2 separate regions of the Homo sapiens genome follow, and region 1 is linked to region 2. The links come from fine-mapping of genetic effects on gene expression. A gene starts in region 2. The other region holds a variant in brackets. All regions are shown on one strand. Distances are from middle to middle.

Evidence for each region.
Region 1: its variant is fine-mapped to the expression of CFAP144 in sun-exposed skin (GTEx, PIP above 0.99). The same link has a PIP of 0.9 or more in esophagus mucosa.

What each region holds. Positions count from the first base shown.
Region 1 is chr1:43,118,881-43,121,788 of GRCh38, forward strand. No RefSeq gene overlaps it. Among named protein-coding and RNA genes, the nearest start is that of CFAP144, 28 kb to the right of the region's middle. RefSeq lists enhancers at 691-1,332, 1,333-1,973, 2,522-2,908. The variant C/T (reference allele first, on the strand shown) is at 1,451.
Region 2 is chr1:43,146,582-43,149,489 of GRCh38, forward strand. It overlaps CFAP144 (cilia and flagella associated protein 144), which reads left to right and starts at 1,323. Exons shown (of 4, transcript NM_001101376.3): 1 at 1,323-1,503. The coding sequence starts at 1,371.

The DNA.
Region 1 (2,908 bases), 28 kb before region 2:
CGCTGTTAGTCTGATGGACTTCCCTTTGAGGGTAACCCGACCTTTCTCTCTGGCTGCCCTTAACATTTTTTCCTTCATTTCAACTTTGGTGAATCTGACAATTATGTGTCTTGGAGTTGCTCTTCTCGAGGAGTATGTTTGTGGCATTCTCTGTATTTCCTGAATCTGAACGTTGGCGTGCCTTGCTAGATTGGGGAAGTTCTCCTGGATAATATCCTGCAGAGTGTTTTCCAACTTGGTTCCATTCTCCCCATCACTTTCAGGTACACCAATCAGATGTAGATTTGGTCTTTTCACATAGTCCCATATTTCTTGGAGGCTTTGCTCATTTCTTTTTCTTTTTTCTCTAAACTTCCCTTCTCACTTCATTTCATTCATTTCATCTTCCATTGCTGATATCCTTTCTTCCAGTTGATCACATCAGCTCCTGAGGCTTCTGCATTCTTCACATAGTTCTCGAGCCTTGGTTTTCAGCTCCATCAGCTCCTTTAAGCACTTCTCTGTATTGGTTATTCTAGGTATACATTCTTCTAAATTTTTTTCAATGTTTTCAACTTCTTTGCCTTTGGTTTGAATGTCCTCCCGTAGCTCAGAGTAATTTGATCATCTGAAGCCTTCTTCTCTCAGCTCTCAAAGTCATTCTCCATCGAGCTTTGTTCCCTTGCTGGTGAGGAACTGCGTTCCTTTGGAGGAGGAGAGGCGCTCTGCGTTTTAGAGTTTCCAGTTTTTCTGTTCTGTTTTTTCCCCATCTTTGTGGTTTTATCAACTTTTGGTCTTTGATGATGGTGATGTACAGATGGGTTTTTGGTGTGGATGTCCTTTCTGTTTGTTAGTTTTCCATCTAACAGACAGGACCCTCAGCTGCAAGTCTGTTGGAATACCCTGCTGTGTGAGGTGTCAGTGTGCCCCTGCTGGGGGGTGCCTCCCAGTTAGGCTGCTCAGGGGTCAGGGGTCAGGGACCCACTTGAGGAGGCAGTCTGCCCGTTCCCAGATCTCCAGCTGCGTGCTGGAAGAACCACTACTCTCTTCAAAGCTGTCAGACAGGGACATTTAAGTCTGCAGAGGTTACTGCTGTCTTTTTGTTTGTCTGTGCCCTGCCCCCAGAGGTGGAGCCTACAGAGGCAGGCAGGCCTCCTTGAGCTGTGGTGGGTTCCACCCAGTTGGAGCTTCCCGGCTGCTTTGTTTACCTAAGCAAGCCTGGGCAATGGCGGGCGCCCCTCCCCCAGCCTCCCTGCCGCCTTGCAGTTTGATCTCAGACTGCTGTGCTAGCAATCAGCGAGACTCCGTGGGCGTAGGACCCTCCGAGCCAGGTGCGGGATATCATCTCGTGGTGCGCCGTTTAAGCCAGTCGGAAAAGCGCAGTATTCGGGTGGGAGTGACCCGATTTTCCAGGTGCGTCCGTCACCCCTTTCTTTGACTCGGAAAGGGAACTCCCTGACCCCTTGCGCTT[C/T]CCAAGTGAGGCAGTGCCTTGCCCTGCTTCGGCTCGTGCACGGTGCGCGCACCCACTGACCTGCGCCCACTGTCTGGCACTCCCTAGTGAGATGAACCCGGTACCTCAGATGGAAATGCAGAAATCACCCGTCTTCTGCGTCGCTCACGCTGGGAGCTGTAGATTCGGCCATCTTGGCTCCTCCCCGACTTTGTTTTTCGATTGTTTTGTCCCTTGAGATTTTATCTTAGTTTGACGTGGATTTTTTTTCATAGAATCATTGCCCAGGTAATTTTTTAATTTCTAAAAAGAAATCATTGAGATTTTGATAGACATTATGTCAAATCTGTAGATCCCTTTTGGTAATATTGACTTCTTAACAATATTATATCTTCCAATCTATGAACATGGATTGGAAAGGATATTCTACTTAAGGGTGTCTTCCTTAATTTCTTTCACCAAAATTTGTAGTTTGCAGTGAACAAGTCTTTTGCCTCTAAGGTTATTCCTAAGTATTTTATCCCTTTGATGCTATTGTAAATAAAATTTTGTTCTTAATTTCCTTCTTGGATTGTTTGTTGTTAGTGCATAGAAAGACAACTGATATTTGCATGTTGATTTTATATCTTGTAACTTTGCTAAATTGGTTTATTAGTTTCAACACTGTTTTTGTTGGGATTTTTAGGGTTTTCTACCTATAAGACCAAGTTGTCTGTGAACAGAGATAATTTTACTTCTTCCTTTCCAACTTGGATGCCTTTTATTTCTTTTCCTTGCCTAATTTCTCTGGCTAAGACTTCTAGTACTATGTTGAATAGAGTGATAAAAAGAGACATTCTTGCTTCTAATTTAGAGGGAAAGCTTTCAGTCTTTCACCATTGAGTATGACGTTAGTTGTGGGCTTTTCAAAGATATGCACAGCGGCTTTTAAACGTCTTGATTTTCCTAAGACTTTCACCCCTGCTTCTTCTCAGGGTCTTAGATGTTCCATTGTAATTCTCTGCCTGTAATCTCCCGCTCCAAGTGCCCTTGGGTCTACAGTTCTCCGGCAGTTTTCATGTGCCATGGCACCTGCCACTGCTTTCAGTGGGGTCCAACCTGCTATCCAACTATGCCACCGTTCCCATCTAAGCTGAGTCAGATGAGATAAAAATCAGTTCCTCAGGCAGCCTCCAGACAAGACAGAACAGTGCAAACAAGTCCCAGTCTTTTCCCTCTGAAAGGGGAATTGTGTGACTTCCTCCTGACTGTGTTGCACTGAGGAGAAGGTAGGCAAGGGCTCAAAAAAAAAAAAAAAAAAAAAAAAAAAGCAACACAATTTCCTACTGTGTTAAGTGTTGCTTTGTCTTGATTGGGTGTTTAATTGATTGGTTGCTGCAGATCCTTGACTGGTTTCTACAGCTCCTACAACTGTAAGAGCCGAGATTTTTTTTTTTTAGACAGGGTCTTGCTGTTGTCACCCAGGCTGGAGTGCGGTGG
Region 2 (2,908 bases):
GAGGGAAAATACATTTGCAGCATGTACAGCCCTCAAAATAATATATTAAGAACTCCAACAAATTGATAAACAATCCAATTAAAAATTTTGTTCAACACTGTGTCCCAGACTAAACCCATTCTGCAATTCACATTGTGTCCTGAGCGAATGAATGGATGGATGAATGAATGAAGTACTGAGTGGGGAAGAGCACAGTCTTCAGACAGTATTTAGGTGCTTACTAAAAATAGGGGTGGCTTCTTTCTTTATGCTAGACCTACTTTTTATTTATTTTTTATTTTTTAGAAGGAGTCTCGCTCTGTCCCCCAGGCTGGAGTGCAGTGGCGCAATCTTGGCTCACTGCAACCTCCGCCTCCCGGGTTCAAGCGATTCTCCTGCCTCAGCCTCCCGAGTAGCTGGGATTACAGGCATATGCCATCACGCCTGGCTAATTTTGTATTTTTGGTAGAGATGGGGTTTCACCATGTTGGTCAAGCTGGTCTCGAACTCCTGACCTCAGGTGATCCACCTGCCTCAGCCTCCCAAAGTGCTGGGATTACAGGCGTGAGCCACCGTGCTCGGCGATTCTTTTAAAATAAACTACATTATTTAAGGTATCTAGCAGACTCAAATTCATAGAAACAAAAAGTGAAATGCCAGGGGCTGGAGAGAAGGGAAAAGGGAAACTTGTTGTTTAATGGGTGTGAAAAAGTTCTGGAGATTGGTTTCACATAGTTTGAATATACTTAATACTACTGTACTGTAATACTTAAAAATGGCTAAGATGGTAAAATTATATTACGTGCATTTTAAACACAAACATTAAAAATAAACTATAAAGTCAACAAGTTCCTTAATTAGGAAAGGTTTATTCTGTCAATATTATCACATTGGTAATCTTGGTCACACTGGCCAGAACGTTTTCTCAGAGAGGAAACCTCCGGTTTTTTTGTGAGGTTTTGATTCTGGGCATCTGCTTTAAGGTGGGAGAGGTTTCTGACTCCTTCCAAAAGCTTTTTTAGGAAATGATTGGCCAAGGTGAGGTCCAATCATCTGTCCCTTACCTCCTGGGTCTGCCCCTTGCCGGGAAGCCCTTTCCTGGCGGTATCCAGGGGACCTTCTAGTAACCAGCCGGGCCTGAGGAGCTGGGGCAAGTGAGTACAGTGCCAGAATAGGGCGGGGCGCGAAATAAGATCCCGACCGGCGGGCGCGGGGCGGGGCGATGCAGGCAGGGTAAGGGGCTGGCAGAGTGAGACCCGCCCCGACCGGGCAGCACTACCCGAGCGCTGTTGCCTGGAGACCACGGGACGCCGTTGCCTGGAGACAGCGGGGACGCGTTGCCTGGAGACTGTGGAAGGCCCAGGCAAGAGGGCGCGTGGCAGCCCAAGGCCATGGCGGGACACCCAAAAGAGAAGGTGATTCCAGATGAGGTCCATCAGAACCAGATCTTGCGGGAACTGTACCTCAAGGAGCTACGAACCCAGAAACTCTACACGCAGTATCACGTGAATCCCCTCCGCAAGAGTGAGAGGCACGGCGGGGTGGGGGAAGGGCGAGAGCGGGAGGGCGCCGGGGAAGGAGGAGCCCTCCGGGTTGCGGGGTGGGAACGCGGTCCCAGCAAAAACTCTTTCCCCAGCACCCGCCCCCTTTCCTAGATTTCAGGAACCATGACTTTGGAGAGGCCACATCATATCAGATGTATTCGCTGTATTAAAGTTCATGCGCAACACGATTAAATCTTTTCGTTGTAGAAAAAAAAAAGTTGTAGGGCTTTTTATTATTTTACTTTTGAAATAATTATATTTTGCAGGCTGTTTGTGTTTTGTTTTTGTTTGTATTTTGGGTTGTTTTTAACAAGTGAAAGGTTTTTCTTCAGGCTTCTGATATTGCCCTTCGGAAAGTTCTGGGGTGCCCCCTGATAAAACATCCCTACCCTCCACTCTTGTCACTGAGCACTCTCCTTGGGCAGTTTGTTCTGTCCTGTCACACCAGCTTCCCCTGAATGCCACTGGGCCTGAAATGGAGCTTCAGATCCACACGCCCAACCACCTCACAGCTCCCCTCCCTGGACAACCCACAGGCACCTCAGACCCAGCAGGAGGAAAGCCAGGCTCATTCCCACCTTCCCCACTCTCTGCTGCTCCAGAATACCCTGTCTCTGCAAAAGGCCCCGGATGATTCACTCTCATGATCAGAATCATTCACTCTCATCATCTAATGATCTCATGATCATTAGAAGCCTCGGAGTCCTCCTCAAGGTCTCTCTCCCTCCACACACTTAAAAAAAGGCACAAGTCCTGTTTATTAACATTCCTCTCCCCTGACCCACTTGTTCCTGCTTCAGTGAAAGACACCATCATGCATATGGATTCCTCTCTGCCTCTGCTCAGGTACTTTCATGCTCTAAGTAGCACCTCAAACAGCCTCTGCCTGCATCCTCACTCCTGAAGCCTCTGCAGGGCCCTAGTCCTTGCCGCCTGGATTGGTCTGATGGGCTCCCAACTCCTTATTCTCTTTCCCTCCAAGCTGGCCCCTCCGACCAAACCCCTACACCTTTGCTAGCTTAGCACTATGCTAGGAGGACAATTAGATCACATCAATCCCACCTAAAATCCTTCTCATAGCCTCTGAGGTAAAGTTTAAATCAATCACGACATAAGGCGCATTGGATCTGGCTCTGGTTCCTGCCAGCTTCATGCCATACTCCTCTCCCCCACTTTACCCTGCTCCTTTAAGAAATACTTTGGTGCCTACTCTGCACCAGCCATTGCTGACGAATCCCACACACACTCCTTTCCCCCCTGCCATTTCTAAATACATGGATTTCCTAAATGCATCATGTCATTTCCCACTTTACCTGCATAAACATTGTTGCTTCTTCCTGAATGCCTCTCCCAACTCTGTGCCTAATATGTAAAGTCCACTTTGT